Linked DNA regions of Homo sapiens. The protein of the gene in region 1 interacts with the protein of each later gene in a pairwise test. Each region holds a gene or a part of one and is shown in the gene's direction. Other genes may lie near its edges.

Region 1 (4,821 bases):
GGTGACAGAACCTGGCTTTGCCCTTCCTGTAAGAAAGAGGAAGTGAGCAGAAGAACAGTGATGTTTACTCCCCAGGTCATCTTGTCTCATGGCTTTAGATACCGTCATATGATTTATGTCTCCACCCTCATACACCTCACCATCACTCAGCGGCTCTGATGCTGGATGTTCGCTAGGCAACTTAAATCTTATGTGTCCAAAACTCAACCCAGTATTACCCCATGAATTTGATTTCCTCCAGTGCTGAGCAGCTCATTAAATGGCACCACCATTATTCACCTCAATGGTCAAGCCAAACACCTTGAAGTAATTCTCAACTCAGTTTTTCCTTCCTTCCTTCATTCAACTAACACCTTGTCCAGACCACCAGCTTTTCTTCTATGGATGGCTTCAGTAGCCTCCCAGTTGATCTCCCTGCCACTACTTGCTGTTTCTCCTCATCTACTCCGCAACACAGATGAACACACATACACACAGTTTTCTGTCCGCAGTGCCAGAGCAATCCATTTCAAATATAAGTCAGATTGTGCCTGTCTCCACTCATACATCTCTGGTGGCTTTCCATCGTATTTGTGTTAAAAGCTTTTTACAGCAGTCAGAAGGCCCTTTATGATGTAATAGTACTTGGCTACCTCTCCCTTCACCTTTTCTTACTTTTCATATTCTGCTTTGGCCACTCTGACCCTCCCCTTGCTACTCCTTGAGCATACTAAGCACATCCAGTCTCAGGGCCTCTGCCTTAGAAACTTCTCCCTCCAGATGCCTGCATGTCTTCTTCCCTCCATTCAGGTTTCTGCTCAAATGTTATCTCCTCAGGAGGGCCTTCCTTGACTATCTTATCTAAAATAGGACCCCTTCACTTTTACCTGGCTTCGTGTGTTTTCGTAGTCTTTATTGCTATATGATACCACGTTACACATTTGTTTATGCTATAATCTGTCCACTTAGAATGTAAGCTTCATGAAAGCAGGGACTTAGTTTACCCACATCCTATAGCCCTAGCATCTAGAACAGTGCCTGGCATAATTAGACACAGTAAATATGTGTTGAATAAACATCTAAAAACCATCAGAGTAGAAGATGAAAAGTCAGACTTTTGGTAGGGGTTTTGTTGTGGCCTTGGGCAAGTTCCTTAGTAGTTTTTATGCACATGATGTTTCCCATCTGCAGAATTAAGAGGTTGGATTAGATTGGTGGTTTTAAAACTGCTCCAGGGAATTCTAAGGGTTCTTCAGTGCCATCTGTTGCTAGAAGAGGATGAGAGAAATGCTAAGGAAGCCAGGCTTCAGAACGCCCGACTGCACCCTCTCACTCCTTCCAGGATTTTATTAATAACCTGCTTTAACTGTTTCATATTGGGCTTTCATAAAGACATGGGGTTCAGCTACTCAAAAAAAAAAAAAAAGCTAAAAAATTCCTGGTCTGTGTGATCTCTAAGGTTCTTTTCAGCTCTGAAATGTCTAGGCCAGGGTTACTCAAACCTTGACATTATTGACATTTTGACCGGGTTAATTTTTTGTTGTGGGGCTGCCCTGTGCATTGTAGAATGGTTAGCAGCATCCTTGGCCTTTTCCTACTAGATACTAATTATACCACCCCTCCCCAGTATAACAATCAGAAAGGACTCCAGACATTGCCAAATGTCCCCATAGAGGCAGTCGCCCCTACTTGAGAACCACTAGTCTAAGAAAAGGACAGAAAAATGGTAATTCCATAAAAGTGGCATCCAGGGAATACAAATAACGGTGTAATGAGATACCATTATGTACTGGCTAATTGGCAGACATTTTCAAATTTGAGTCTTCCAGTTGAGAATATGGGACAACCAGAACCGTCAATGATGGATGTGTATATTGAAACAACTACATTGGAAAACCGTTTGTCATTATCTTGTAAAGTTGAAGATGTGCATATCCTTTGATTTAGCTATATAGTTCTTGGGTATGTGCCCTAGAGAAACATGTATTGCAGAGCACCATACAAGTATAAAAATGTTCAAATGCCAGGTACAGTGGCATGCACCTGTAGTCCCAGGTACTTGGGAGGCTGAGGCGGACAGATCACTTGAGCCCAGGAGTTCAAGGCTGTAGTGCATGATGATCACACCTGTGAATAGCCATTGCACTCCAGTCTGGGCAACATGGTGGGACCCTGTCTCTAAAAAATAATAATAAAAATTTAAAAAAATTTAAAAACGTTCTAGCACTTTTGCTTGTGATAATAAAAAACTGGAAACCACCAAAACATTCATTAGCTAGAGACAAATCCAGTACCATAGATAAGTTGTGGTGTATTTGTATATTTGTAAATAGTATACAGCAGTGGAAGGGAACAAACAACTGATACAGCAGCTTGAATGAATTTTATGAGCATCATACTGAGAGAATGCAGCAAGACAAAAGAAATACATATAGAATTTACATAGAATTTGAGAATTTACATAGTATTCTAAAACAGGAAAAATGAGCCTACACTGTTTTAAACTATACATGTTTTATGAGTCTTCTGTATATCACCTATGCAAAAGCCTGATTCAGAAGGATAGAGCTGCTCTGACAAAGGCCTGCGGCTATGAAGAATAAGTGTTGCCTCAGTTGTTATTTGTAACCCCAAATCAAATGTTTTTTCTTGTGTTCCTCTTAGAGAACGCCAGATCAAGTGTCCCAAGTGTGATAAGCTGTTCTTGAGAACAAATCACTTAAAGAAGCATCTCAATTCTCATGAAGGAAAACGGGATTATGTCTGTGAAAAATGTACAAAGGCTTATCTAACCAAATACCATCTCACCCGCCACCTGAAAACCTGCAAAGGGCCCACCTCCAGTTCGTCAGCACCAGAGGAGGAAGAAGAGGATGACTCAGAAGAGGAAGATCTAGCAGACTCTGTGGGGACAGAAGACTGTAGGATTAACAGTGCTGTGTATTCAGCGGATGAGTCTCTTTCTGCACATAAATAAAAGGAAAAGAAACAAGCAATTTTGGATGAAAATGCAAATGGAAAAATACACATAACCAGTTATCTACTATAATGGTTTTTATATAAAATGGTTCCTGATTTATTTTCAGCCAGTAATCAAAACAGACTGGGAATGAATAAAGCACTTACAGAAGAGTATCCTAATGAAAACACTTTAAAACAGATTGGGAAAACTGAGCATGTGTCCTGTTTTAAGTGGTGGACTGGGAGGGAAGTGTCAACTTCTGAGGTCTTTATTTACATGATAATCTGGGAGATGCATTTATGCCTGAATCAAAGCTGCCTTCTGCTCAAACAAATCAGATTTATTTCACATTCTTCCATTATTCCATTTTCCTGCTGGTCCTGTGACTTGGTAACATTCTAAACGGTCCTTGCCCCATAGCCATCCTGATTGCTGATAGTGTTTTATGCAGACTCTTGTGACTTATACTCACCACAGAATGGATTGGGACACAGCAGCATAAGTGTGCTACTTGGCAGCTAGTAAGTTTAAAGCAGGACCTGCCTTAACTGCTCCTGGCCACTTGGAAGTTTAGGGTAGATCTTGTTTTCCAAAGTTTCGGCAGGTGCCTGGAGGGCAAATAAAAAAGCAGCAGTCAGTCAGTAGTCAGTGATGGAGAGAACAAGAGGAGAGATGCCTGGCCTCTGCCCAAGAAATTAGCTTTGATGGAAGCCTGAGCAAGTCACCTGGTTATTGTAACGTGGAGATCTTTGTAGGTTTAGACATGGCTCCCTGTCTCCAGTAAACATCCAGCCATTCAGACAAAGGGGGCCTGGAGATACAGAGAGCCCAAATAATGCCTGCTGGATTGTCTCCTGATGAGTACATGTGGACTCACCTGAGGAAGGGAAGGAAGGGAATAATCTTTTATGTTTCATTTACCTTATGAAAAGTGTTAAAACATTGCCAACTCAAAATAACATTATTTAATGCATGTGCAAAGTTAGGTCTTCCCAGTTGTCTCAGTGCTGAGGAACCTCATCAGAGAAGCATGGAAGATGCCAAAGGATTTTTGGAAGGTAAAGAAGGCTGAATAGTGACCACATGGGCCTGTTTTCAGGGTCCCAGCTTAGTTAAGTCACCCATGCACCTGGTCATTGTGTCTCCCATGCACATCCAGCGTTTCTCAGAAGCAGACCCACCCTTAAGTTGACAGGATTGATGGAACATGCTCTCCTGCTCAAGGCACAACCTCTGGGCTGGAGTAGAGGACTCTGGTGGGAAGGTTTTGCTGCTAATGTATTTATGGAATGAATGTATTTCATTCAAATCTGTATTCCTCTAGGAAGGATTAAAATTAAACTTTTTTAAAATACAGGATTCCTCTGGTAGTCTCATTTCATGGAGGAAGGAGATGAGTGAGTCTTCTAGGGAAAGTCAAGTACAATTTGAATCTTTCTGAGGTTAGAAGAAGAGAGCATTTCTAGAGTATTTTAGCTTTTGAGATCATATTCTTATTGTTTCTGCTGTTAGTACTTAAGACAAACTGCTTCCTGTGCTTCCAACCCTCTTCTGCCCTGTTCCTGCCTAAGGTATGCCTTTACTCTGTTACCTCCTTGGAGAAATGTGGCAGGTCTGCAGTGGAGGGTTGGGGGATGTGTTGCGGATGGTTAGGGTTGGCTGCTGACACTGGGTCGTGACGCCTCCCTCAGGGCAGCTCTGGTTCCTAGGGCAGCTTCAAACTCAGCATTTTGCCAAAGGCATCCAGCTGGCTGGTTCCCCCATACCCAGGAAACCACTGGTACTGGGACTCTAAGCTCCCTTTCTTCCTTTATCTCAGTAGCACACACTGGGTTCACTTCCTTCATTCCCAAGACTGAAATGATGCCCAAGATAGTTAC
Region 2 (3,779 bases), about 42 Mb from region 1:
CAGTGTAGAGACCAGAGCTGGGCAGTGCAGGGCATGGAGACCTGCAAGACACATGGCCTTGAGGCCTTTGCACAGACCCACCTAAGATAAGGTTGGAGTGATGTTTTAATGAGACTGTTCAGCTTTGTGGAAAGTTTGAGCTAAGGTCATTTTTTTTTTTCTCACTGAAAGGGTGTGAAGGTCTAAAGTCTTTCCTTATGTTAAATTGTTGCCAGATCCAAAGGGGCATACTGAGTGTTGTGGCAGAGAAGTAAACATTACCACACTGTTAGGCCTTTATTTTATTTTATTTTCCATCGAAAGCATTGGAGGCCCAGTGCAATGGCTCACGCCTGTGATCCCAGCACTTTGGGAGGCCAAGGCGGGTGGATCACGAGGTCAGGAGATGGAGACCATCCTGGCTAACATGGTGAAACCCCGTCTCTACTAAAAATACGAAAAATTAGCCAGGCGTGGTGGTGGGCACCTGTAGTCCCAGCTACTCAGGAGGCTGAGGCAGGAGAATGGCGTGAACCCGGAAGGCGGAGCTTGCAGTTAGCCGAGATCATGCCACTGCACTCCAGCCTACATGACAATGTGACACTCCATCTCAAAAAATAATAATAATAACAATATAAGAACTAGCTGGGCATGGTGGCGCATGCATGTAGTCCCAGCTACTCCTGAGGCTCAGTCAGGAGAATCGCTTGAACTTGGGAGGCGGAGGTTGCAGTGAGCTGAGCTCATACCACTGCACTCCAGCCTGAACAGAGTGAGATCCTGTCAAAAAAGAAAAGAAAAAGAAAGCAGCATTCAAATGTAAGACAACTGTAAAATATTGAGCCCCACTTGGTCTAAAATTCAAAAAGAAGAACGCCTGTCCATCGCCTTTTTATAAGTCCTTCTCTCCACACCTAAAAGCAGCTGCAGCTGGAAGGGCACAAATTCCACTGTGTAAAATAAAATATTAGGGGCAACACACTTCATCAAGGCAGCAGGAATGAGAGAGAGCAGAGAAGATCAAGGATGAAGTCTTGGGTACTGAAAAATTCAGTGCTGGGCAGAAAAACTGACAGGGCAGTACAAGTAACAAACAGAATCCAAGTGGGGTGGCCCTTGTGCACAGAGCTCCAGGTGACCTCTGGAGAGACATGGGCATTCACATGGAAAGCTAAAACGGAAGCTCAAGTTTCATACTCAACATAATCTTCTGTGTGACAAAGGACAAGCCATGTAGCCTCTCTGTGCCTATTTCTTCATGCATAAACTGGGACTCATAATATTTGTAAAATGTATTGATACTCTCAGGGCAAATTCACTATATTGCTATACAGTTGAGATCAGTGTTGTAAAATTAAACTGATCTGGTTCTAATTGCCTCAAAGGCCAAAGCCCAGGCATTTGAAATGGAAAGAAGCAGAGAGGAGGCTGACTTAGCTGATTGGTATGGAAACAGTTGGGCCAAGAGCCAGAATTTCCCTTTGTAGCAACACGGCTAGTTTTACTTTGAGAAGCTCTGCTCAGCTGCTTTATAACATTAAGTCTGGCGGAATGGATGTCACTGTGCACAATAAAGTTTTCACAAGTATAAACAATGGTGATGTAAGTCAACATTGCTGTAGCCAGGTGTGAAGGTTGTATGGTGTGTGACGAATGTACATCATGTTTGTAGGTTTGGATGCTAATCTTGAATTGTAGTTTAAAAAATACGTATTTTTGTAACTCTTTGAAAGTTTATGAAGACTGACAGCTTTCCTTGTAAGCACTAAGAGAAAAAAAAGAAAGAGGGACATTTGACAATTTTAAAGAAACAACAAGAAATTAGAATGAAAATCTGTGACAAACAGCGTCAGTGTGGCCATGTCCACATTCCTACATGTCTCTCTCTACAAGCACCTCTCTAAGAAGCCTGACATCCCGGTGGACTCTTTATAGTCATGTACACTTGATTCCAGATGAGCTCTGGTCTTATCTGGATGCTCAGATAAGAGGTTTCTATCTGAGCATCCAGATGTTCCCTCAGGTTCCAAGACATTTCACCCCAGGCCCTGGGTTCACTCTGGAATTCGTAGGCTTCACGTCTCTCTAGAAATGACGTGTAAAATTTAAGACCAGACCTCAGCCATCAGCGTCCAGACCATCCTAGAAGTCTTTCCCAATCTCACAGAGAAAGCCCTAGTATTTCCCAGTGACCCCAGGATTCCACGTTGGGGTGGCCAAAGAAATAGGTCTCTCAGGGCTTTGCCACAGCCTCCAGCCCATCCTTCAGAGGCACACACAGCACCTCTCGGCTGCTCCAGCTCTGTAGGATAGCCTCCCCTGGGGTCCGTGGGACGCGGGCCACAGTGTTGAGGTAGACAAGGAGGATCAGTGAGAGGCCTCTTCCCTCTCCACAGAGACTGGATTGTCATTGTTCCTTCATTTATATCGTAGGGCTTAACATTTCACTCAAAAAAAAGCCCCTCTTTTTCTAATCCTTAGTCTTTGTTTCAAGGAAAGCCAGTTTTTCTTCTACCACATTTTCCAGGATCGACTTTAAGAAAAATGCAACATCTATTGAAAAAAAGTGGGGTGTATGCATGTGGTTTAATTCCAGATTGCTTTTGGGTTTAAGTGGTATCAAATTTCAGTATATTTCTGTCTTATGTGAAAGAAATATATTACTAAAACGTCAGTGAGCAATAATGTCAGCTGTCAAGCACTAGATTTATTTTTGCAGGATATGGAGTGCAATGAACTGAGTCAATATGGCAAGGTGTATGTGATCTGTGGGAGTTATGCCATTTAACATAGGAAGTGCATGGGACTTTCCCTCTCTGCACTCCAGCTCTTACTGTACCATTAGAAGATGCAGAATTCTGTTGGTGTGCAAAAAGTATAGCCTTACATTCAAGCAGAATGGATCTGAAGAAAGCAGCAATATCTGTTACTAGAGAACATTCCCATGTGTTTAAACTCTTCACTTCTTAGATGCATTTAAATTCTTAATGCAAATGACGTAGCAATTTGAAAACTTCTCCGTATTACTTGTGTTTAAAATGTCTTGCTTTAAATACAAAACAAATGGTAAAGGGGATTATCTTTTGTTTAGATGGTTAAATATTATTTTTGCCTTAGATAGCTTTGTAATAATTTTTCTCCAGACAGTTCAACACTTTTGAAAAATGACATGAATTTTCATTAAAAACCCTTTTCCTATGTTTATTGTATACAAGAATTATGCAATAAAATTTCTTTATAAAAATATTTTCTTCTTTGATTCCTGAAGACTCCTTTTATTTTCAGCACAGATACATGGACTGGAGTTTGTAGCAGACTGTTCTGTTTGCCTCCTTAACCAGCTGACAAGTCTGTAGTCTATATGGAGAGCCTTTCATCTGATGCAGTCTTTGGAAGTTGGGTCTCTTACAGTAGGGTCAAGTCCAACTCTCCACACCACAGGCCCTGGGAGAGGCCTCCAGGGATCTGAAAGACTGGAGGAAAGGGAAACATTTGCAGAATTACTCAACCTTCACCTCACCTCAGCAAAATCTTCAGCAGCTTGTGTATGTTTCTTGCTTAAAATATGGATTTGGGAGTTCCACCATAAAACTCTGTGGGTAAAAATGCAGGAATGATACCACGCTGATGCCTTGGCTTCTGTTAAAAAATTTGACAGGAAACTTACACTATCATTGAGGGTTGTTCTCTGTGGAAGTATATTAGGAGCTTTCCACTGCTTACAGATGATTTCACTGATAAAAGCCATCTCTACAGATAAGTTTTGGTATTGTATTATTTGTTGTTGAAATGTTGAGTTG

Evidence for each region.
Region 2: the proteins of PRDM4 (region 1) and MSRB3 interact in binary tests that used the Homo sapiens proteins (3 or more experiments, as listed by UniProt).

What each region holds. Positions count from the first base shown.
Region 1 is NC_000012.12:107,732,345-107,737,165, reverse strand, and holds the end of PRDM4 (PR domain zinc finger protein 4), read left to right. Parts: intron 1-218; exon of another isoform or gene 219-611; intron 612-2,643; coding exon 2,644-2,956; 3' UTR 2,957-4,295; downstream 4,296-4,821. UniProt on the Homo sapiens protein: May function as a transcription factor involved in cell differentiation.
Region 2 is NC_000012.12:65,463,683-65,467,461, forward strand, and holds the end of MSRB3 (methionine-R-sulfoxide reductase B3 isoform 2 precursor), read left to right. Parts: 3' UTR 1-3,225; downstream 3,226-3,779. UniProt on the Homo sapiens protein: Catalyzes the reduction of free and protein-bound methionine sulfoxide to methionine. Isoform 2 is essential for hearing.